3 separate regions of the Homo sapiens genome follow, and all the other regions are linked to region 2. Evidence: fine-mapped expression QTL. A gene starts in region 2. Each other region holds a variant in brackets. All regions are shown on one strand. Distances are from middle to middle.

Region 1 (8,352 bases), 780 kb after region 2:
TTAATGCTCAGTAGCATCTTTCAGGAGGGGGCACTTAGCATGTTCATACAGCAGTTAGCGGATCTCTGAGTGGCTTCTCTGCACGTTTTGTCCTGTGGCCTCCAGAACACGCTGCACCCTCAGGTGTCCTCCCGGGCTGTGGCCTCCCACTCCTGCTCTGTCTGCAGGAGCAGGACACAGCGTGCAGCGAGTTTAGACGCTCCCTCCTCTAGATGTGCTTTAGGCAAGGCAGGCCTATTTTTGGTCCTGGAGACAGAACGCACAGAAATGTGGAGACAGACAGTGTCCCCGCAGAGGCTGTGGTTTGGGCTGCAAGGCGGAAACCGTGCCTGGCCAGCCAGGGGACCAGCCTGTCTCAATGGGGCCTTCGTTCTGCTGTGAGCTTTTACCTGAAACTGCATGGACGGAAATTTTCACTTCCACAGAAATGGTGTTTGGTAAATTTCAGACACGTGGAAGCGGGGGAGGAATCAGCTTCCAATGCCAGCCTTCATAATGACACCACTAATAGCATCTGAGAGGGTCTGCCGTGACGCTGGGCAGGTGCAGTGCTGATTGCCTGTGATGCCGAGCAGGGACCATCATCCCTGCTCTGCAGATGAGGAGACTGGGCAGAGAGGCTAAGCAGTGTCCCTGGGTCTCACAGTTCATGAATGGCCAGGCTGTGGGCTCCAGGGCCCTCGCTCCCAGCCACTGAGCCTTGCTGCCTGAGGCCAAGCATCCGGCTCACACCTTGTGGACAGGGCCGGGAAGCTGATGATACACTATAGCTAAAGGCCAGTTTCCGGTGAATGTTTGTGTTAATGAGGTGGTTATGGTCCACGTTCACTGGGCTGAGTCCTTTGCCCGCTGATGTCTGCAACCCTGAAGTTCTGTGCTCGGTATGGTGTGGGTGCTGCACACAGGCTCCTTCATGGATCTTACTACCTTCCCCAAGACCCTCACTGAGGAGCGAACACACCTGACATGGGTCACTCCCGGAGCAGGGCTGAGCTGCCGCAAGCGCTGACGGTTTCTCTTGTCACAGTTATCATTGCCGCCCTGAAAAGGCTGCAAAGTTTGCCTTCTGCCTCAGGGTTAATCCATGGCTGCTGGGATGGAAGGTAGCATTTGAAATTACCTACAGGGGGAGGCTGCACCTGCAGAACGGGCCCAGTTGATCCTGTCACATCCAATGTCATTGCCCATCTCTTGGGGTGCTTACCCCCCAATTACAGAGATTTCGAATTCATGTAGCGTGCACGTGCTAGGCGCTGGGGTGCAGAGATGAAAAGATGCACTCACAGGTGATAAATTATTGTGTCTGGTGAAAGATGTACAGAGATAGATGTGTGGACCAGCTTCAGGAGGGAGGGTGAGGGTGTCCCAGGCAGACCAGCCAGTGAGAGCTCGAAGGTGGGAAGCAGCACCGCCTTCCCAGGACTACCCTGGGGGCTGAGAAGGTTCAGGGCTGGGTGAGGGTGGCAGGGCAGAGGGAGAAGACTGGAGGGGCCATGGGTCCAGGTGGTGGAGGCTCCTGTGCTGCCCGCTATGGGTTCCCAATCCACACAGACCTCCTCTTGTCATTCTGGGCTCAGCTCAGATGTCACCTTCCTGACCATCTCCCAGTGGCACAGCCTCGCCATTACCCTGTGTCACATCGTCCCCTGCTGTGTTTTTAGCCACTTCCACAGCTGCTGAAAGTGCCGTTTACTCATCTGTTCTGTTCGCCTCTTCAGGGTGTGCCCACTGGCGTGGCGGGGCCCTGCTCTGCTCTTCTGTGAGGGCCTTGCCCACCAAGGAGGCGCTGGCTAAGCTGGTGGGAAATGGCAGATGAGGAGGCCTGGCTCTCCCGAGAAGCAGCCAGGGCTCCCTGGGGGTCAGGAGCGAGGGCATGTCTGGGAAACGCCCCTCTGCTGCAGTGCAGGGCTGGTTTGGGAGAGCAAGGCTAGAGCTGGGTGGGGAGACAAGGGTTTCTCACATGCTACAGGCCCAGGAGCCAGCACCATCCTGGGGACGCGGGGCTGCAGAGAGGACGGCAGAGCTGGTGAGGATGAACGGCAGGCCTGTGGCTGAGGGAGGAGGGCCTGCCAGCCTAGGGGTGGGTGGATCTGCAATGGTGGAGAGGGAATCCAGGAAGAAGGCAGGCAGACACAGGGGAAAGGTTATATGTCCAAAGGGTCCCTATGCCGTCAGGTGCCTGGGGTTTTTGGCAGTGCTTCCATCCACTTGTGCAGGTGAGACTGCCCAAGGAGCACAGGGACTGGAACGGGAGACTGCCCGGTCCATGCTGGACTTGCTGATCTCAGCTGAGGTCGAGGGTATTCAGAGCCCGTCGTGGTGTTTTATACGGTCCTGTACTTCCTGTTATCCTTGGTCCATTTTCTTCTACACTATCTTCCCTCCAGTTTCACACACTTGGACAGAAGGGAGTGGTTGTTTTTCACTGACCGCCAGGAACCACAACAGGCTTCTGTGTGTTCCAGTGAAATAAGCCCTATCTGTCTCTCGGGAATGGAGCAGTGTTAAGCTTTTTTTAAAAGCACAATCTGAAGACACTGGGGTCTGGAAACCCATTTTTTCTTGTTCTGAAGCCTGTGGGGCCTCCGCGGTTGGGCCTTGCTGAATAATTTGGGGTTTTAGGTTGGGTACATCAAGGGTAAAGGGCTTCTGTTTGGATCAAACAGGAGGTGGGGGGAGGGTGAGATTCCCTCATATTGCTGAGAAGGGAGTTGGGGGCTGAGTTCCCCGACTTCAGAGGTGAGACATCTCACAAGCCAGACCTTGGGACTGTCCCTGTGGACCCAGGCTGGACTGGGAAGTTCAGGGAACCCTCGACTCGAAGAGGGTTCTTGTTAATGAACAGTCTTCAAGGAGCAAAGCCCAGACTGTTCTCCCAGTGTGGTGTACACATGAGGAGGGACCTCATCGGGGGGAATTTGGCTTCCTGATATTCAAAAGCACATTTGTCTGCTCAGTCTCTGAAATTGCCAGTGGGACAATTTCCAAAGGGATCACCAGAAAGAAGGTAAATGCAGAGACGAACAAGGAACTCATCATACCCAGGATCGTTCTTGATCAAAATGCCAACAGCTGGGCATCTTCAGCCAAAAGAAATGCAGTTGTGGCAGGAAAGACTCAGCTGTACTTGGGGTTCTGGTTTTTTTTTTTTTGTTTTTTTTTTTGAGATGGACTCTCACTCTGTCTCCAGGCTGGAGTGCAGTGGCGTGATCTCGGCTCACTGTAACCTCTGCCTTCTGGGTTCAAGCGATTCTCCTGCCTCAGCCTCCCAATTAGCTGGGATTACAGGTGTGCACCACCATGCCCAGCTAACTTTTGTATTTTTAGTAGAAACAGTGTTTCACCATGTTGGCCAGGATGGTCTTGATCTCTTGACCTCATGATCCGCCTGCCTTGGCCTCCCAAAGTGCTGGGATTGCAGGCGTAAGCCACCACGCCTGGCTTGGGTTTCCTGTTTTATAGTGAACCCCAAGGTTGCAAAACAGGCGATGAGGCTTGTGATCATTTATCTTTATGGATCATGGGTCTGCGAACTGGATGAGAGTTTTAAGCATGTCAGGTGTGCAAACATCTCCTATGGTTGTGGGAATTTCTCCTTGCATAGCCACCATTGTCTAGAGCAGCAGTCCCCATCCATTTTTGTACCAGGAACCAGTTTCATGGAAGACAGTTTTTCCATGGACCAGGGAGGAGGATGGTTTTGGGATGATTCAAGCACATTACCTTTATTGTACAGTTTATCTCTATTATTATTACATTGTAATATATAATGAAGTTATTATACAACTCACT[G/A]TAATATAGAATCAGTGGGAGCCCTGAGCTTGTTTTCCTGCAACTAGATGGTCCCATCTGGAGGTGATGGGAAACAGGGATGGATCATCAGGCATTAGATTCTCATAAGAAGTGTGCAACCCAGATCCCTCATATGCGTAGTTCACAATCTGCTGAGAATCGAATGCTGCTGCTGATCTGACAGGAGGTGGAGCTAAGGCAGTAATGCTTGCTCGCCACTACTCACCTCCTGCTGTGTGGCCAGGTTCCTAATAGGCTAGGTTGCCCCAGATGGGTACTGGGGTTGGGACCCCTGTTCTAGAGCAGTCTGCACGCTGGGGACTCTGGGTCCATGACAGTATTTCCTTCCTGTGTGATAGGCCTCACAGCCTCCACTTTGCATGTGAGGAAATGGAGGCTCAGAATTGTTAGTAGCCAGTGAGTAGCTGAGTGAGGACATGAACCTGAGTCTTTCCAGCTCAAAGTCCTTTTCCTTAGCCTATTTCACAACTCCCTGGAACTCATCCATGGCCATCCTCTGGTTCAAATTATCCTCCACCTAGGCAGTAGACTTTCCTTTAAGGAAGGAAGAAACTTCTTCAATGTTTTATCCTCAGTGCCTGGTACACAGTAGGCTCCCAGCTAATTACTGTTGAATGGATGGTTGGTTAGATGGATAGATGGATGATTGTATGATTGGATAGGTGGGTGGTTGGGTAGTTAGATGGATGGCCATCTGGATGGTGGGATGATTGAACAGGTTAATGGCTGCTGGGGTAATTGCATTATAAGATGCATGAGTATAGGTAGATGGAGAGACAGCTGGATGAATAGGTAGATGGGTGGATAAGTGGTGGGATGTTGTGTAGTTAGATGGATGAGGAGGTGAATGGAGACATTGTTGAACTAAATGGCATCCTATTCACTGTGCTTGATGTACCCTAATATCTGTCCATCCATCCATGCAACTGTCTCAGCACGCACAGTGGGTTAGATGGAATTTCCTAAGAGTTTATTTCAATAAAATAAGAGTTTAGTTCAGTACAATAAGTGTTTATTGAATGAATATCTCTCTTTGCATAGTGGGCTCTTTGGATACATTTAAGCAATGATTCCATTTACTACATTGATTATAACCAACCTATTCAGAAGTGTATTTGTGAATAGTGTGAGCCCTCAGGACCTCAGTGGCCATTGCCAATTTTGGAGACTGGTTCTGTGCTGTCTCCAGGCCAGGGTCTGCATACGCTTCTGGCGACACCACTGCCGTCTGGCTGCTGACCAGCCTGGGCTATTTCTGAGCTGCAGGTCCTTAGGCCCTCAGGTGAGGATACTCCAGAAGCCTCCACTTCACCCTCACTGGAAGGAAGTCTCTGGTGGAAACAAGCTACTCCTAAAGCTTTCTGAGCACTTGTCAGGAGGAATAGGAGAGAAAGCTTTATCGGAATGAGTAAGACCAATAGTATTAACCCATGACTCGCCACAGGAGGCGGGTGGGGGATGGTGTCTTCACAGCTCATTCAACAGAGTAGAAGTCACAGACCCAAATGCTCCATAAGTGACCTGGGCCAGGCAGGGCTGTGGCATCCTGGGGAGTGTGCACTCTTGCTCAAGAGGGCAGCTGTCACTCAGATCCTGTGGGCCATCACCCCTGGCCACATGTCAGGCCATTGTGGCCAGAATTTCCAAGAGAAACCGAAGATTTGATTTTTTTGGTGAAATAGCCTTCATGTAAATGTTGAGAGCCTCTTCCTATTTTTAAAAGCAATGTGTGCACCCAGAAAACATATTTGTGGACCAGATTTGGCCCGGGACCACCCACTGGCCACCTCTGATGTGAAGTCACTTATGCACTTGTATTGGGAGAAGTACATGTTTCTTTACACTGAGGTTAAGGGGATTTTCAACTCTTGAGTTAGCAGGGAAAATAAATGGGTCATCCTGTAAAGTGACTGTCAGCAGCGGAAGCCTCCAGGGCTACCACTGTCAGTATCCTAGGGAGCCTCAGCGAACCTGTCTCCTTCCTCGCATATGTGAGGGGGCCCTTGTGTGCGGCCCTCTCAGCTCCACCCTTGCTCTAAGGAAGCCGCACAGTGCACCGCTGAGAAGTCAGGATGGACAGAATGCCTCGGTTCCCAGCCAGCTCTGCAGTTTTCCAGCATGTGGGCATGGGGAAGTCACCTCCTGACATGCGCCTTACTTTCCTCCTCTGTAAAAGGGATGTGACTACAACAGAGCCTGTCTTTTGGGGCCACGGGAAGGATGCAATGAGCCGTCACACGTAGAATGCCTGGAATCATGCCTGGCAGAGAGGAAGCTCTCCAGGAAGAAAAGGAAGAAATCTGAGTTCCATGAGGATAGGGAATTTGTCTCTTTCAGTTTTAACAGCTTTGTTGAGACATAATTCACACACCACATGCTTCACGCACTTTAAGTGTCCAATTCAGGGCTTCCAACATACTCATAGAGTTGTATTTCCATCAGCACAATCGATTTTAAGATATTTTCCTCACTCCAAAAAGAAGCCTCTCCCTCTCAGCTGTATCTCCAGTCCCTAGAATGGTACTGAGTCCTGTGGGTACTCGGTGATTTTGCAGCTACTGCTGCAGGGACGAAGGGGAAACTGCATGGGAAGGCATCTCCTAAACATGACCAGTTATTGGTGTCACCATTCCCTTTGCTTCACCAACTTGATCTTCTTCAGATCCTTTTCTTCTGCTTCGGCATCTTTTCATTGTCATCATTTTATCTTCATCACTATCATCACCTTCACTGCTTGTTTATCATCATCTTTGTCATTTTCATCTTTTTCTTCCTCATTATCTTTCCATCATCTTTAGCAACAACTTTGTCAACATTTTTATCCTCATCATCATTTTCATCATTTCCATAATCACGAATTTGCCCCATCTTTGCTCCCTAGGAGACACTCGGGGAACTTGGGCTCTCAATCCCCTTGACGTCTGGGGGCTTGGCCTATGAAGGGAATGAAGCCCACATCTAAAGCAGGTTCCGGAGCCTCTGCTGAGTCTGATCGTGCCTGGAGTGAAGAGGACTCTTGAGAATGGTGGGGGCTGGGCGCAGTGGCTCATTCCCGCAATCCCAGAACTTTGGGAAGCCGAGGCAGGAGAATCGCTTGAGTCCAGGATCACTTGCTGTGTTGCCCAGGCTGGTCACCAGACCTGGGTGCCCACAGGCAGATAAGAGGAAGGTGCCTGAGTCACCAACTGCCCACGGGACTGAGGCACCTCCCTCTTATCTTCCTGCTATTTTCCAGATCAGCCTGGGCAACACAGCCAGACTCCATCTCTACAAAAAATAGAAATTTAAAAACAGCTAGGCATGGTGGTGCACACCTGTGATCTCAGCTACTTGGGAGGCTCAGGAGGGAGAGAGGATGGCTTGAGCCTAGGAGTTAGAGGCTGCAGTGAACTATGATGGTGCCATTGCACTCCAGCCCGGGCAACAGATTGAGACCCTGTCGTTAAAAAAAAAAAAAAAAAGAAAACAAAATGGTGGGAAGGTGAGTCTGAGCCGGGACCCTGCAGATCCCACAGGTCCAGCTCAGGTTGCCACCCCCGTGTGTGGCCTGGTTGGGCCGGTGCTGTCCCAGTACTGGCCACCCGTCAACTGAGGCACCTGGTTGGGCCAGTGCTGTCCCAGTACTGGCCACCCGTCAACTGAGGCACCTGATTGGGCCGGTGCTGTCCCGGTACTGGCCACCCGTCAGCTGAGGCACCTGGCTGGGCCGGTGCTGTCCCGGTACTGGCCACCCATCAACTGAGGCACCTGGTTGGGCCGGTGCTGTACCGGTACTGGCCACACGTCAGCTGAGGCATGCAGGGCTCTGCCATCTATAGCCTTCTTTGGATTCCGAGATCCCAAGAACAGAAGCTGTTGGCATTTAGCAATTTATGATTTTCTTCCTTTTTTTGATGCTGCAGATTTATCCGACTGACTTTCCCAGCCCTCCAGGGGGACCGTTGCTGGGGCTTCCGGTCTCTCTTTGTTTAGAAATCTCAGGGCAAGTGGAGATCAGGTCTGTTCTGCACAGATGCACCTTCCTGAGCTCTTGGCGTGGCACCACCTCCTGCTTCACCACTGTGGTGAGGGGTCTGCCTGTGAACACTGCAGAGCCTCCAAGGTCAAGAAGACCACCAAGATTTATGAGGGCACTTTCAAGGATTTGTTGCAAAAATGCGAAGGAGCTCACGAGGCAGTGCTGTGAGCAGGCTCTGTGTGGTATTGTGGGCAGAAATCAACCTCAGCCCTAAAGGGAGGGGCCTGGTAGTCCTGCAAAGGCCGGGGCAGGCAAGGCCAGCACGGATCAGGCAAAATGGTGGCTATCATGTATGGATCTTGTACGTTCTGCTTTTAGATGGAGGTAGCTAAGCAACAGAACACACAGCTTCCAAATTGGGACAAGTTTAAACTGGCAAATCTCAGCCCCAGAGGATATAAATATGACGCTTCATCGTCTTGGGTGGAAGTCCCCGTGTACAGGGAGGGAAAGCCCATCTGTGTGTGGCATGCAGGGTACAGGGAGTGGGTCCCGAGTCCCATCCTGTGCAGGGGAGAGGC
Region 2 (8,352 bases):
AAGATTCATTTACAAAACAATGTGAAAAACACTTTGTGCTTAAATTCTGTAACCGTTCTTATCTATAGGCTTTAAGTGCACAATACAAAACAAGTACAATTTAGTATTTCTTCTTCTAATCTACACTTTTAGTATTTAATAATTATTTCCATTTGTTACTGATAACCATGTCATTATTCTGACATGACAACAATTCAAAAATAAGGGACTACGAAGCCTCAATGACAGCAGATAATTTTGATCACCAATTAATGTCATGAAACAACTATTTTGAGACATTTTCAAAATGCTTTCTGTATCCCTTTGGTCACTAAATATTAAATCTGGCTTCCCCTGCTTTTAAGAAACCCTGGTTCACATGGCCATAATCATGCAGCTGTGCAGACAGTTCCTTTAAAGAAAATGAAAAAGTCTCACAAACTAAAATCAAGAGTAACAGTGAACCATATTTCAATTTATTGACATTGTCAATTTATGAACAAGACAGGATTTTTTTTTTTCCCATGGAATGAGATCCTTTTCAATCTGCCATAACATGTGCCCACACATCTTCACCTTGGAAATGTAGCATTTCAAGCTTTAGTCAGGGTCTAGGAGGAAAAAGAAAATGCAAGTTGCTGGCTAGTTCTCTGTGTTTTCTTAAAAACTCAACATGAATATAAGAAATAACTTCCTTATAGTGAACTGTATAACTGTGGCTATCATTCACATTGCCGTGGCTCAGATGTAAAAAGTGCTGGTTCAAGTACACAGGCTTAGTCAAGCAGGCATTTTCCTGCTGAGTAAAAGTAAACACTCTCCCAGAATAAAGAAACTACTTTGCCTTTAAAAGACACTAACATCTCCTTGTGCTAATGAGGTGGGGTCTGTAACCCTGAAGGGCATAACAGAGAGGGGCTAATGCTTTGTTTAAGGGGATCGGACACTACTTCCTGACCCCCAGGACTTTGCAAAATCTCAGCATTAGATGCAGTCTGGCAGCTCTGAGCCGAGTGAGGCTAAATGATTTTCTGTTAGCTTACTGTTAAAACAAAACAACCCAACATAAAACCAGGTCTCATTACTCAGAATTATGAGATTAGACAGAGAGCCCCTAGAAAAAGGGCTAAATTCAAAACACTGCATCTCCAGACTTGTAATAAAATATTTACTAATTCAAAATGAAAATGAAAAGTGCTTAGGGGAGACAGTTCCAATAAGTAAAATTGCTCATAACCATAAGCTGCCAAAGGATTAATATTTATCACATTTCTGTGCTATTATGGGTCTGAAGCTTTTTAAAAGCAAAACAAGAAAAATTAAATCTGAAAAACATCTCTCTGATAATTTGCCTTGCCTACTTTTGAAATAACAATGTCAAGAAAGTACTTTAGAGATCAAACCACTTTTATAATGTGGAACACAAAAGTCTACACTTATCAACTGTACAGACCTTTTTATTTCACGAGAATTTAACTTTACATCACCAACATCTTTGGAAAAGTAAAATGAACCAAACCCTCTGAAAGCATAATAAATTAGCAAAACAGTATTCGCTGCGGGGTCTTGCAGATTTTATTGCTTGATACAACAGCAGGACCCTTGCCTGTGCCTGTAGTTATTATGTTCGGGAAGTAGTGATTTGTGAGAACATTAGTGGTTGTGGGGGAAATAAAAATGTAAAGAACTGTAGTTTTTCATGCTCTTGGACTGTTATGTAACTCCAATTGCAATTATACAAGTGGGGAGTTCATCCTCCAAATTATTTGATTTGTGCAGACAAATGAAACAGGTTTAATTCAAATACGATGGCTCTCTACCTAAGCATTGCTAAATGAACTGAAAATCAATGTGCCAATTACTTCTGCTTGTCAGGGCCCAAGAAGACTTTCTTTTTATTAGGCCAGGGGACTTCTATAACCTGCATGCTTTAAATTATACCATCCCAATAACTAACTTCCAAATACACTGACTAAAAAATGAATAGAACCCAAAACTAAAATTATTTTGATCTTTATGGTGCTCCAAAAACTTAAGATGCAACTGTTCTTCTAAATAAATCCATAACTTACAGATTATTCCTTCTTTACTTTCACAATTTTTACGTTGCTGCCAGAAGTCTTCTCAGCATTTGCTTTGAATTCTGTCTTCAGTGCATCTCTCACTGCTTTTGCACAGATCTGGGAGTATCGGATGTAGCTGGGAGAAAATGAGAGAAGGTATATGGTTAATTATCAATATTCCAGCCAGACAGCTGTTACTGTGTTTTCGCTTTTCTTCCTGTACTTTTTATTTTGGTTTGGTTGTACCTTATTGTAGAATTGGATTTAAAAATATGACTAATGCCAAAAAGTATCTATACAAAGAAAAAGAACTAGAAAAAAATGTACCAAAGTATTAACTGGTGTTTGGATGGATGATCTTTGATTTTTCTTCTTTGTACTGTGTTTTCTCTTTAGTGTATATTAATTCAAAATGAAAGATGCATAAATGTTTTTAAAAATCCCACAGCATAGAAAAAAAGAGACTGAAATGTTTAGAGACTATAACATGAATCATGAATTCTCTCCTCGATTTCTCTCCTTAAAACTTTAATTATATTATTCTTGGAAAATGAGGTATACATAAGAGAAAACTATTTTGAATTAAAACAATTCGTTCTAAATTATTTAAACTCTTCTCTGAGAATACTGAATTCTGTCTCACAAGTCTGCCACTGAAAATAACCTCCTAATGAAGATTTCTAAATCAAACTGAAAAGTGCTTAGAGAACATCATCAATTCTAGCAAAACTGTAAAACCTGCTTCCTGTTTGGTAGATGGACTCCCATCAACACTGTAGTTTCCAAAAGATGTCAGATCACCTTTCCCACTTTTGAAAAACAGGAAGCGGGGAGGGGTGCTATTTTCTCATGTTTTAGAATTTATTTTGGGGACTCAGAGGTATGAGTTCCAATGCCTGCTTCCATTCTTACTAACTGGGTGACCTTCAGGCTGTTCAACCTTTTCAGCACGTTTACTCACTCACCTGAAAAAAACAACAGAATAAAAGGACAATAATACCTGTCCTGCTGATAGCTGGGAGGAGGAAAAACAAGTGTGAAAAAGTATGGATCACAGGGTAGGTTGCCTAATAAACGGTATCTACTACTGGGACTATCATCCTTCCATCCTTCCAATTCTACAAGACTTCGCTGGCTTGACCTCAGCAAGTCGGGAAGCTCCGCTGTAGTGTACCCACAAAATGTAAAGTGCTACACCATCCAGTCAACTAACAAGGTGTGTCACCTAGAGCAAGGTACTTCTGCTCACTCAGGTGCACGGGTAAAAAAAAATCGGATGTGACAGCTAGACCAATGGTTTGCGGTTCCACTATGAGACACCATGTCCTCAAGTGGGTTCCATATTTGAGCTTTCCAGGAGCCACCTCTCATCTTTGTGAGGGGCTCTCGACAGTTATGGCTTTCACCCCTTTTAGACATAAGGAAACCTGAAATCAACAGGACTTAAAAGTTTAAAAAAAAAATGTGTAAAGTTGTAAAAGGCTCCACCTCGATGCTGGATTAAAGGTCAAAGCTGCTAACGGCGGTCACGTGGAGAGAAATCTCCTGTTTCCCGAGGTGGATGTGACTGTACTACTTTCACCACCTGGCTCCAGCACCATTCTAGAAGAAAAAGGTTTGCTAAATAAGAGCTGGCCTCTCTCTCGAGAAACCTGCCATTCACAAAGGTGTCCAGGGGCACTCTGTGGGTGCTGGGCCGCACCGTCGGGAAGCGAGGCAGGACACAGACGCGCTCCCACGCGAGGTCGAGGCCGCGCCCGCCTGAGCGCTTTGCCCACAGCGACGCCATCTTGGCGGCGACGCCCGAGGCTTGGCCCAACCCCGGTCACGCGTGGGGCCGCTGCTCTGTGTCCTGCATGACCTCTGGGCACCGGGATGCGCGCGGGCCGGCTCGCGAAGCCCTTCCCTCTGGAGGCCTGGGCCTACCTGAGTCCAGCCTGTCTCCAGTAGGCCACCATGCTGTAGCGAAAGCGGAGCTCGTCGGGCCGAATCGCCAAGACGCCGGCAATGTCGGCTCAGCCGGGCGGTTCAGCCGCAGGAAGATCAGACCACAGAAGCGGAAGAGGCGGGGCGTGCGGACCTGCCAATCACCGCCTCCTACCCGGCCCCGCCCCTGAGCACGGCCCCTGCTGCCCTGCCGCGGAAGCCCCCCGGCGCCGGGAGCCAATGGGCGCGCGCGGTCTGGACTGCGGGTGCCAATCCCGGGGCGGGCCGGCCGGCCGCGCCCACCTATTGGCTCCAAGAGCTCCCGGGGCGTGTGTCCCCCGACCTTCCGTATTACCCCGGCGGGGACGACGGGGGCAAGAAGGCCGGGGTGTCCCCGCTCGCTAAGGACCACTGAGCCGCGTGCTTTCGGGAAGCGAGGACGCGAGGCGGCGCGGGCACGGCCGCCCCGAGGGCCTGGCTTTGCGCCCGCTTCAGGGAAACGGCGCCGGCTTTTTTAAATCTGTGGACAGACAAGCGTGTCCTGAGAGCTGAGATTTAGAAAGGCTCTTAGGGCACCCCCTTTCTCGGAGTGACACTAAACCCTGGAAACCCAGTGGAGGACCCCCTAGCGTTTTCTGTAGTTCTAGGACCTGCTTCCGATGTGCGACAAGACGGAGGGTAAGGCAACAGTTGTCACTGTTGCCCGGAATGGATGGGAAGAAAAATGTGAGGAAAACCCACTGGAGGCACAGGGAACTGCCAGGCGGCCGGGAAAATGCTCATCTCAGAGCCTGTGATTTAGAGAAACTAACCCAACGCAGTGAAGGCTCACAGTCTAGGAATTAAAGTGTTTCTCTCATAAAGAAAAAAAAGCCTTTGCCCTTCACCTTTAATTACTAAAAAGAAATTATAATCAGGAAAAACATCACTTAAAAGAAAGTTTTTATTAACAAAAGTTTTCCTTAATTCACATTTCAACTTTATTAAATAGTCCAAGGGTTTCATTTATGAACACTTATTCCAGTTTAGTTCTCTTAAATTCATTTGCTTGTTGTGCATTTATGTTTAAAAAGGTAACTAACTGCACTGGAAAATGAAAATTTATAGTTTTATCAATAGGTCAGTTTTTAAAAAATCAAAGGATAAGGATTTAAAAATATTAGGGCATTACACCTTTTTCAGAACAAGGATAATTTACAGAAATTATACAAAGCAGATTTTCATCAAATATCAATTATTTAGCGATGTTTTATTTAGCTGAAATGTTATTTCACTTGTAAAAACTATCTCCGGTTACAAAAAAAAATCAGAAACCTTATTAAATTTAACCTGCTTTTACAAATGTCCTAAGAAGTCTTAAGCTAAACAAAATTTAAGTAGGAAAACGATAATTTAAAAATAGTGTGTTATACTATTTCTGTGGTTTATGTACATATATTAACTGGTCTCTTGGATAGGAAACATGACTAGAAGTTTATCACACTAAGCACTGTAAAATAAAGGCAAGAGCTAATCATCTTCTAGCAAAAATAGTCTCTATGCAACAATTGCAAATGTCAAAGCTATTATTTAGTAGTTAATTGCCTGCTACAATACATAAAACAAAGTACATTTACTGGATTGTTTTTCAGTTTGCAGCTGCCCTCTTGACATCCCAAATAAGGAATTCCCGTTAAGTAAAACCTGCAGTGCAATTCACTCAGTGGTTAGTTTCAGGCCAAGCCTCCCCCTACCATTATGCTTGTTCTTCCCCACCGCCCCCAAATCCTGCAGTGGCACCATATTATTAAAAACACTAAGTACCTGGGATTTATGCCTCAGAGCAAGACATCATTTGAGTAATTTCAAATGATACACAGCTCCTTCATGTAAAAAAGATGTTTTGTGGTCACAATTACTTCAAAAAGTAATTATATTCAAATAACCTGACATATCATGCCTTAGCAATTACAAAACCATGATTTTGACACATGGCAATTTTTAAGTTAGGCAAATGTAAAATGCTAAAAGATGTGAACAGCTGTTCTTCTGTTTAAGTTAGAGCACTGCAAAACTCAGGTAATGACTTTATTTTTTTCAGTTAACATAACCAGCCCACGATACAGCATACTAAATCACAAAGTACAAATCCAAGGAAGTTAATACCTTTACTAAGTTACAAAACTTGGGCAAATCAATACAGTACTCTTTTATAATGAAACCATACTTTTGTTGGAGTCATGTTACTTTAGTGATAATTTTCACTCCAAAAATATTTAAGTACCAAATCAAAACACTGGTTTTTAATGGTGGTTTATAGCATAGTAAGGTATTTTACACAAAATATATTTTAAAACTACACAATTTCTCCTTTTAAGTGAGCTCCCTTGTGCAAGCTGCTGAAGTGTACAGCAGCAGGGCAATGGGCGTCTATAGGAGGTGGCTCTGCTCTGTTCTGGGGTTGGTCCAAAGTCAGGTGGAGTTCCAATGTATGAAAAGCTTGAAAAATCTACCTTAAGGAGACTGAATATCAATACCAGTTTCCAAGGAGTTCTTGTTGAATTTTCACAGAAATACTGGAACCCTCAAAATCAGATAGTAATTTCAAACAACATTAATTTCAGATGATCCCTTTTATTTAGAGGCCCTGCATCTGTTTTGATCAAGTCACATAGCCTTACACCAACTTATCAAAAAAAAAAAAAAAAAAACTACCCAAAATATAGTTGTATTTTTAAAATAACAAATAAATATATAGTCAGTTTGGAGAGACCTGGAGTACCCGATGTTGTCTACCAACTGTCACGATCACTTCTCTGCAAACGCTGCTGCTGCCATTGGAGTCCTTATGGTTCCTCTTGCTGAGGCTGTCAGTTCTTCAATCTCAGCATTTAATTTATGTATTACCCATTCCATTGCTTCTCGGCCCTTAAAAAAAATCCAATACATTTATTGTTACTGAGGGAGAGCAAAGGCATATATCGAACTAATGACACACCAGGAAGTAACAAGGGGCGTGACAAGTTTAACTCAATCTCAGGATGACAGATCGTTTTTGTCCTGGCTTTTTCTAATGTTATTTAGCAAACATCAAATGCCTTGAGCAACTGGCTTGATCCATAAACTGACTTTTACTTTGTATGCAAAAGATGTTCTCAAATGAATCTACAATTAAATGACAGAATGTCTTATTTGTTTCATGATTATAGTGGTCCCCTTTTTAGGGGCAAGAAGGTCAAATCCCTTTTCTTTACATTTTAAACCAAAATCCTGTGCAAGGTCCTGCAGGATCTGGTCCTCAACTCACTCCTCACCCCTTCTCTCCTAGTGTTCTATATAGTTCCTTGAAAAACAGAGCATTCCCTACTTCCTGTCTCAGGGCCTTTGCACACGCAGCTCCTCCACCTAGAACACTCTTCTTGGAATACCCCTCGCAATCCACCTGCCCCCATTTGGCAGTCAGCAGAAACATCAGTTACTGAACACTCAATAAGCACTCTCATACCTTTCTGTACCTTTTCTTTCCTAATTACATGCTGTATGATTAATGTCACCTGCCTCTTAGTTCCACGGGGGCAGGGACCACATTTGTTTTGCTCCCTGCTGTATACCCTGTCTAGCCTAGCACTCTGCATGGCACAGAGAAGGCATCCATGAGTATCTCTTGATAACCACATTCACCATGTGTTATGTAACAGTGCATGGCATCTTTCTCTAAACTTACTGTTTCAGATCATGCATTCTCAATAAGCAAAAATTGGTTCTTGGGGGGATGGAAAAAATCTCCCTCTTTTATGTATAAAGCCCACACATATGTATATGATATATGACTTAATGGAGGTGGCAATTAGGGAAAAAATGTCTAAAACGAGTTGTGGGGGAGACAACAGTGAAAAAAGGTTGAGAAACAGTGCCTTAAATGACACGCAGCTACACATCATCGAGCACTTCCTCAGTGCTGGGCCTCAGGCTACACACTTTCCATATGTTATCTCATTCACTCCACGCCAACCCTGTAAAACGGGTAATCTCCACTTTAAAAACGGGAAACTGAGGCATAGAAAGGTTAACTTAGTTGCCCAAGGTTAAAAGGCTAAAAGTTAGAGCTTGGATGTGAACCCAGAGCCTTTGTAAGTAACTGCCCAACGTGCTGCAGTTTCCTATGGTAGAATGGGCAAGGGTCAGCTTACAAGGACACACATGCAGTCAGCACCCCATTCCATTCCCAGGAAATGAACCAGGGAATAATAACCAAGAAGCAGCCTCACTTACTTTACTAGCATTTGAGGATATCGTACTTGCCATCAGTCCTTCAAGGTAACTGCTGAGGCTAACTCCTTTCACGGTAATTATGGCTTCTTGTGTCAAAACAGTTCTGGAACAAAACATATTCACACAGGTTCAG
Region 3 (8,352 bases), 340 kb after region 2:
TATGAGATGCAATAATTTGTTTTTTATTTGGAGAGGATGTGCTGTTATGCCCCCAGATGACTGGACCACTCTACTGGACCACTGTACTGACATGGCTGGACCTTTGTAGAGGTCAGGCTCTCCCATCCTTTGGAACACATGTGCCTTCCCAAGAGTTCCAACTTGCCGTTTCTTGCTCATCCAGTCCAATTAGCATGATATGTCAGATATCACGGAACCAATGTGATGTTCAGTGGAATATCCCTATAATCCAGGTTCCTTCAGAAGGACAGAGAACAGGAGAATTAATATAGTGCTCAGGCAAGACTGTAAATGTACCCTGTTGTCCATGCCAAGTGAATGACAAACTATTTTTGATCTTCCTTCTTGATGGGGATGAATGCATTCAACAAATTAATGACTACATCTCCCTCTGATCCTCTTGCTTAATATAATATGTACTGTTTCAATTTGGCAATGCCCAGCAGTAAAATTTGAAACTGGGTTCCCAGGTGAAATAAGACTTCTTGAGCCTAAGCTATAGTGTCCCTTGAAACTCTTCCAGAGCTCTGCATTGGGAGGTATTAGACGCTTGCCCAGGTAATAATAAAGTTTGCCTCATCCTCATTTTAATGGTATTCTTTGTATGTGTAGGTCCCCTTCAGGAGCCTTGCTGGGAAGGGGTAGTGGGGCCAAGCTGGGATATGGATAGACCATGGCTATTATGCCATCAAAACCGCATTCAAATTAATGAAAATTTTGCACAAATCTAATAGTCACCCTACTTCTCATCAACTTGCTACTGAGAGCCTTTCATGTACTTAGAGATACAAGGCAAGGGACTGGCCATTTAGCTGGGGAGTATAAACAGTGCATGACACAGGCTTTCCAAGGAGGCAGGGCAAAGTAGACCGGAGAGTCCTGAAGCTTCCCTGGAGGGAGAGTGACTTAGGCGAGGAGAGAGCCTGGCCACCCCTGACAAGGAGTCAGGAACGGTAATGCCTTATTTAAAGAATCATGCCTAATCTATAATAAGTAATATAATAACTGACAACAATAATAAATGTGACATTTATTGACAAGTACACAAAACCCATTGGTGTCTATTATAAATTTCACCCTCAAAACAACCCTTCATTCATTCAGTAATACAACAATTATTTTTCAGACACTGAGGGTACGATGGTAAGCAAAATGATACGATTTCTGCCTTCATATGGCTCCCCATTCAAGGGAGCATGTGGGGACAGAGAATAAAGTCAGCCAATAAATAAACATGATAATTTCAGATAGCAGCTAGTGCTATGAAGAGAATAGAACAAGAGAATAAACAAGATGATGCGGCTGAGGGGTACTTGCCTGGATGGGGGGTGCTTCAGATGGGAGGTTAACGAAGCCTCCCCAAGGGAGTGACAGTTGTGTTGGGACTAGAGCAACATACAGTTCGTGCAGAAGCATGTTGCTGGAGGAGGAACAAATGCAAGGGCCTTGAGGCAAGCATGCTCTGGGATGTTTGAGGAGGCCAGGGGAGGCCCCTGTGGCTACAGCACAGCCTATAAGAAAGGTGGCTGGGAACACTGATGCTCAGATCATGTCTGGGGATAGACAATCCGACTCCCAATTCAGGATGAGTCTTCGACACTCAAGAAGGAGAAAGGAAGGCCGGGCCACACTGAATACATGTCCAAGAGTCAATTAGTCCCTGTGTTTAAAGATCATAACCTCTCTTGCTCCCACATTCACACCAGGAGGAAGCGGTGACACATGCTGTCCCTTGTCCTGGAGGAGACCCTGCACCACCAGTCCTGTGTCTGCGACTCCCAGAACCGGATGGCCCAGGCGCTGTGTCCACGTAGCCCTTCGTGTATTGTATTGGGCCTCTTCAGTCACTGCTAGATTTTCCAGTATTGACCAACAGAATCTTCCCATTGGCTCGTTTCTTGGAAGAATGAGAAAGAGATGGGAAGAGGGGGAGAGAGCCTAGCTCCCCACATGCAGGTCTCTTTCCTTCCTCTCTCCCTGACCTCTTCCATGCGTGCTTCCGATATCCCCATGTTGAGAAGACAAACCACAGATAAAGTAGCCTCTCCTGGCCCACAGCCAGGGGCGTGGGTGCCTCCGTCCTGTGTGTGCAGACAGCTGAACAACCAGATTGTGACCTTGGCCTGGACTTCCTCAGCTGGCTGGAGATGAACTTGTTTTCAGAACTGTGAAACTTGACATCCTTTATCCCGATACCTTCAACTCCCAAGTTTGCTTGGCCAAAACAAGCCATATCTGCTTAATCTTTGGGGCTCTTTCTCATGGAAAAGGAGGCTGCTGCTTTGGCCATTTCCAAAGGCCCAGTGTCCACAGAGCCTTTCAGCACCACAGTCACCCCTTTGGACCCCAGGGGGGAGTATCCTGCTGTCATTTCAGTCACATTTTTAGACAATGAAACTAGATGGTGAGGAAGGGCCACTCTGTGCTGGCGCTCAGGCGAATTCAGGAGGGGAGCAGCCTGCGTCACTGCCCCAGGGACTGCTGGTTAGCCCAGGACTGGAGACCCATTACATTCCCAATTAGAGGCTCTGCCACTGAGCAGGTGCCTTCAGCTTCAACCCAGAGAGGAGCCCTGCTCTGCCCTGGAGGGGCCTAAGAAGCTTACATTATTTACAGTCACAGTTCACCTTTTATTGTTGATGTTGGTGCTTCCATTTGGTGTCAGAAATTTGCACGTTAAGGACTTTCTAAAGTGGGGGTTTTCTTTGGGCATGGGGTTGTGGGGAGCTACTGCCTCGTGCCCCCAATTTCACTGGGTCCCACTTTCCTTACAGCCTTCTCTCATCCTCTTCTTCCATGCATTTTAATTTAAGTTTGTATTTAGGGTCAGCATTTTGAAAGAAGAGTTAGCATCATTTTTAATTTTTAGCATCACGAATCTAATTTACTTGTTCCATGAGTTAATAGTGTTGGCTGCTTGAAGAGCACATGCCTTCTCTGTGAATTCGGCAGCTCCATCTGGGGTGATGGCGAGGGATGAGACCACTTTGCTGGGCCAGCCAGGGCCGGCCTGGGCTGGGCTGTGGCTCATTCAGGCTTTGGTTTAAGATTGAAGTTGGGGCTAGAGCTGAAGACGCCACCAAGGTCTGAGGTAGAGCCACACTTGGCCTCTATTACATGGCAGGGTTATTCCCATTCACAGGGTGGCACCCTTCTGCTCTGTCGGCTTTCCCAAGCACATGGATTTTTAAAAATATCAAGAAAGGAAAATAATAACAACCTATGGTACTGACAAAGTAGGAGGAGGGTGTTGAATTAGAGGCAAAGAAGGAGACCCAGAACTTCAGAAACCCAAGCACCTGCTAGAAACTTCATGGCGTCAGGACAAACAGAATGATTCCAGAGCCATCTGTCTCTACCCTCCCCCCATCCTCCTACTTGACACTTTAGGAGCCTTACTTGAGTGATAAGGATATTTTACCACAGCATTTTTACTTGGGCAACATACTTTATTGTTTAGTTCCAGGGAGAAAAATGGTCGATAGATTGATGAAGGCAAAATGACCTTGTTGTTGAGCAAAACCCTCCAGATCTCATCACCTTCAGTAGCACTGCCTTCACCTAAATGCTAGTGACCTTATTGTAATTGATTTACACAGGCTCTCCCCAGTGTGTTTGCATTGCATGTGGCATTTGACATTTCACAACTTGGCCTCTCAAAACTGGGATCCAGGATCAGCATGCACACTTCCAAAGCAGACAGTAAACATTCGTTAGAGCTTGCTCTTGAGCTGACATGGTGAGATCATACACAGCATCCTTAGTTGATGGAGTAAAAATGCTAATCAGGAAGAGTGTATGCCCCAGGAGACTCATAAAACAGGTTGCCAATAGGGTATGAATCAATCAGTCAATCAATCCATATTATTAAGCATTCTGTGGCCCCATTCCATCCTTCTCCCCAAATCAGTTCAGCTCTGGGAACTCAAATTCAGGAGCAGATTTCAAAAACGTTGAGAATCAACCAGGTGTTATGAGATGAGCTCACATCAAATGGTAAACAGTTCAAGGAATTGTACTATGGAAGGAGGCAGACAGAGCTTGGACAGAGACATGAGTAGAGATTTCTGGAGAAAAGCAGATGGAGGATTTGCATAGTTGGAGGGAAGTGGGCC[G/A]GCGGGCAATGACGATGGAGGCGACATGCTGAGTGGTTGCCTGGCTCAACCACTCTTCACTGTTTGAGCTTCACGGGTTCTACTCAGCCACTCTGGAGCCTCACCATTCTCCCTGCATGATGGAGCTAGTGACCCCATCTCTCAGGGCTACAGCGAGGTTCTAACAGGCAAAAGAGGTGAGACTTCTTTGTGAATTTTTCAGGAAAGAGGAGGAGATGCCTCCTCCTCCTCCTTGGGGGTTGGGGGCAGGAGTGGGGCTCACTCCTGTAATCCCAGTACTTAGGGAACCAGAGGTGGGAGGATCACTTGAGTCCAGGAGTTCAAGACCAGCTTGGGCAACCCCCAAGCTGGCAAGACCCCATTTTCAGGAAGAAAAAAAAAGTGTTGTGGGGTAGGAGTTGTGGTGGGGTAGGGGGCAGAACAAGCAAACTTTCAGTGATGGGAATGGGCAGCAAGGTCAAGACCAACTCCAACAAACTCCACAGAGGTGTTTGTGTTCTGGCTCTGGAGGGCTCAGCCCCTGCTAGGGCACAGCCAGCACATCCAGCTTCTTGAGCAATTAAGCCATTTCATCAATCACCTGAGAGCTGTTCCTTACACCAGACTACCAGGCAGGCTCCAGGGTACCTTTTGCCCCCATAAACAAAATTCCATCACTGATAACACAGACTCTCCTCTGCCTCGATATATTGCTCCAACAGGAATTCCAAGGCTGAGAAATGGCATGTATAACTTTCTCCTTATTAGGCAATAAAACATCCAGAAGTGTGAATGTATACAGAACAATTCCATGCATGTCAACCACATCTTCAGAATAGCTCTAAACTATTCTCAGCTTCCTTTTTCCTGCAAATGGTTTAAAGGATGCACTTTTTAAGTCCATACACTTGAAAGATAGAAGGACCCTGCCAGTGGGGTCTTTGCATGCAGAGGGAATACAATTGAAATTTCAGAGACATTGATAAAGAAGCTGGGTAAAAATCTGGCCTTGGGAAATGTGAAGTTCTTTCCCCACTTTTTTGTTTGTTTGAGGTATATTTACATTCAATAGAATACTCAAATTATAAGTTTACGGTTTTATAAATTCTATGTATATACTCATGTAATCACCATCCCAATCAAGATGTGTGGTGTTTTATCACTCCAGAAAGTTCCCTTGTCCCCTCCTCCTCCAGGTGATATCACACCACCTCAACCCTGGCTACTCAGAGGCAAACAATATTCTGATTTCTTTACTACAGGTTAATTTTGCCTGTTCTAGAACTTCATATGGGTGGGATGATGCAGATGTACTCGTTCATGCCTGGGTCTGTCACTCCACCTAAGGCTCTAAGAATCATCTGTGTTGTATTAGCAAGTGGTTATGTCTTCCTTTCTCCCACCCACCTGCCCTTTTTCTCTCCCCTTCCCTTCCCTTCTCTTCTTCCATTCTTCCCTTCCCTTCTTTTCCCTTCCATCCTTCTTTCCTTCTTTCCTTCTCTCTCTTTCTTCCCTTCTTTCTTTTGTTCTTTCTTTCTTTCCTTTCTCTCTTTCTTTTCTTTCTGCAGAATCTCAGTCTGCTGCCCAGGCTGGAGTGCAGTAGCACAATCATGGCTCACTGCAGCCTCAACCTCCTGGATTCAAGTGATCCTCCTGCCTCATCCTCCTGAATAGCTGGGACCACAACAGCTGTGCAGCACCATGCCCAGCTAATTAAAAAAAATTTTTTTTAGAGATGGGGTCTCACTATGTTGCCCAGGCTGGTCTCAAACTCCTGGGCTCAAGCAATCTTTCTACCTCAGCCTCCCAAAGTGATGGGATTACAGGTGTGACCCATTGTGCTTGGCCTGTTATTTTTTTTCTCGCTAGCATTTTATTGTATGAACATCCCTGAATCTGTTTACCATCCTGCTATTGAGGAATATGTGGGTTGTTCGCAGTTTGAGGCTGCTATGAATTAAACCATCAGGAATTTGTGCATATGTTCTGATTTCTCTTGGATAAACTCCTAGGAGTGGAATTGCTGGGCTGCACAATGATTACTGTATAGATTTTATTAAAAACAGAAAGCTCCAACGTGGTTGTGCCATTTCCCATGACTCTCAGCAGCTTCTGAGAGTTCCTGTTGCTCCAGATCCTTGCCAAGGCTTGGTTTCAATGGTCTTTTTAATTCTTGTCATTCTTATGTGAATGTAATGGTGTGGCATTGTGGTTTAATTTATGAAACAAAGGATAGTATTGTATTATGATTAAGCTTGGTTGCTTTCACCTGGGATACTCTATGGACAAAGTCAAAAAACAGCTGGTGGCTCCATGAGTTGGGATGAGTGGGGAGCTGCTAGCAGGGGTCTCAGTACACACAGCAGAGGTCACCTTAGAAAGAGAAGTGCCGCCAGGGAGGGCAGGGCCATGTGCCACTCAGAATAGCCCTCGTGGGAAGTCCTAGCCCCTCAAAGCCCTCAGTTTCTGGATTAAGCAGTCCGGTTAGGGATCAAGCAAGGACAAGGGGAGGTAGCAGGTCCTCTGTTCTCCAGGTTGACTCCTTTGTCTCCATTGAACCACGTGTCAGGATTGCAAAGGCCTTGCCTCACAGGGCCCACAGCCAAGCCCCACAGCTGACTCCCAAGGGCCTGGAGTCTCCATTCAGGTGTGTGTTGCAGGGATCTGCTCAGGCAAGTCGGCTGGGCCAGGCCACTTGCTGCTGGCTAAGATGGCCACCACCTGGCAAGAAGAGCCTCAGCCGGGCATGGGGAAAGGTTATAGTGATTGATGCAAGATCGATTTATTTCCCCACTGCCCAGTGCAAGGTCAATCCTGATAGACAGCCCTGAGCCACAGGGGGGCCACCCCTCGACCTCAATATCTCACTCCTTAAAAATCCCAAAGCGCAGGGAAAGGTCAGCTTGCTGGTCTTGGCCTCGTTCACAGCAGCTCCCTGGCACGCTGCCAGAGCTCTGCAAATCATGTCGTGGGTTCCTTTTGCCCCCTGCCTGTTTCTTACTCTCTCAGGCTCCCATGAGGGACATTTCAAGCCAACTCACTCATAATACATTTTAGAATGATGAGGAGGGTGACAATAGTGATGGCGATGATGATGACCATTTCTCGATTGCTTGCACAATGCTAGACTGACTCCATCATTTAAGTATCACAGCCACCAAGTTTGAAATCAGATCTCCAAACTACAGTGGAGAAGTGGAGCTAGTAGCTGAGAAACTTGCCTAAGATCACATTGAACATTGTCTGCAAAGGAGATCAGGGGAGCATTCTGTGAATGTCCTCAGTGATGGACGGCCTGGACGCGAGATGAAACGGGCAGAACAGTGAAGACATAACAAACAATCCTGGAGTGTGGTCGAGAAGTCACCAGGAGAGCTCTAAGTCCAGCAAAGAGGAGCAGGAAGCGTCTGTGGAGCAGCTGAGACCATGTGCTTCCTGGAACAGATGAGGCCTTGCAATCCTCAGATCTGCTTCTGACCTTTAAAAGTAAAACCATGTCAGACACCTCAGCTGTCTGAGTGTACTCACATGTAGGCAAAGAAAATCACCCCCGGCTGCTTCCACAAGGGCAGCTGGCAAAGCAACCACCATTCCCTGTGTGCTGTCCAAGACCCAAGCCTCCTGCACACTGAACTCTCGGCAGCTTCGTGAGACCAGGATTCTCCCTATTTGACAGATGAAGAAACCGAGACTTGGTCACCAGTAGGCATGAAGTGGTAGAGTTGGCCCTCAAGCCAGGCCTGTCTGATTTTGAAGGCCATGATCAACTTGGCATGCTATATTATGCCATGTCAATGTGTGAATAAATGTGTTACGTGAGATGTGCAAGCATATGCTAACAGCTTCAAAAAATAGCAAAAGAGAGACACCAAAATCCATTTCTATCCTTTCCTGGTTCTCCCGTCCCCCTTCTCAGAGACAATAGATAATAATCTTTTGAACATCATTCTAGGGATATTCCATTCATACACATATTCTATGCATAATTTTGCATAATGACCCTCTTACTCTTTATGCAAATAAGTACATATAATGTGCATTTTTTTTTCTGTACCTTGCTTTTCTCAATTAACAGGGTGTTTGACAAACAGTTCAGCATGAGTGCAGATGGACTTGACTCATTCTCAGTGATGTCCTGTAGCTTTGTATGGGTGAACCCCAATTTACAGAGCCATTACCCTTTTACTCTGCATCTATAGTGTTCTTCTCATATCTTTGGGCAAGTGTGAGAATGTTT

Which allele goes with the higher level. Alleles are on the strand shown, and positions count from the first base shown. SD is a standard deviation of normalised expression in the study named. Not every link is listed here.
As copies of A replace G in region 1, the expression in whole blood of the gene that starts at base 4,084 in region 2 goes up (large effect, 0.86 SD a copy in Lepik 2017).

What was found.
Region 1: its variant is fine-mapped to the expression of ATP5F1E in whole blood (Lepik 2017, PIP 0.95).
Region 3: its variant is fine-mapped to the expression of ATP5F1E in lung (TOPMed, PIP 0.97).

The regions. Positions count from the first base shown.
Region 1 is chr20:59,812,280-59,820,631 of GRCh38, forward strand. The region is part of intron 8 of PHACTR3 (phosphatase and actin regulator 3); the gene reads left to right. Among named protein-coding and RNA genes, the nearest start is that of SYCP2, 120 kb to the right of the region's middle. The variant G/A (reference allele first, on the strand shown) is at 3,793.
Region 2 is chr20:59,028,252-59,036,603 of GRCh38, forward strand. ATP5F1E (ATP synthase F1 subunit epsilon) reads right to left here and starts at 4,084. Exons shown (of 3, transcript NM_006886.4): 1 at 3,969-4,084; 2 at 2,052-2,178; 3 at 1-590. The coding sequence starts at 4,000. The coding sequence ends at 2,055. PRELID3B (PRELI domain containing 3B) reads right to left here. Exons shown (of 6, transcript NM_016045.3): 5 at 8,220-8,322; 6 at 4,894-6,875. The coding sequence ends at 6,756. SLMO2-ATP5E (SLMO2-ATP5E readthrough) reads right to left here. Exons shown (of 6, transcript NR_037930.1): 3 at 8,220-8,322; 4 at 6,721-6,875; 5 at 2,052-2,178; 6 at 427-590. RefSeq lists enhancers at 563-1,093, 3,878-4,017 and a silencer at 4,038-4,327.
Region 3 is chr20:59,369,582-59,377,933 of GRCh38, forward strand. No RefSeq gene overlaps it. Among named protein-coding and RNA genes, the nearest start is that of EDN3, 73 kb to the left of the region's middle. RefSeq lists an enhancer at 6,283-6,784. The variant G/A (reference allele first, on the strand shown) is at 4,137.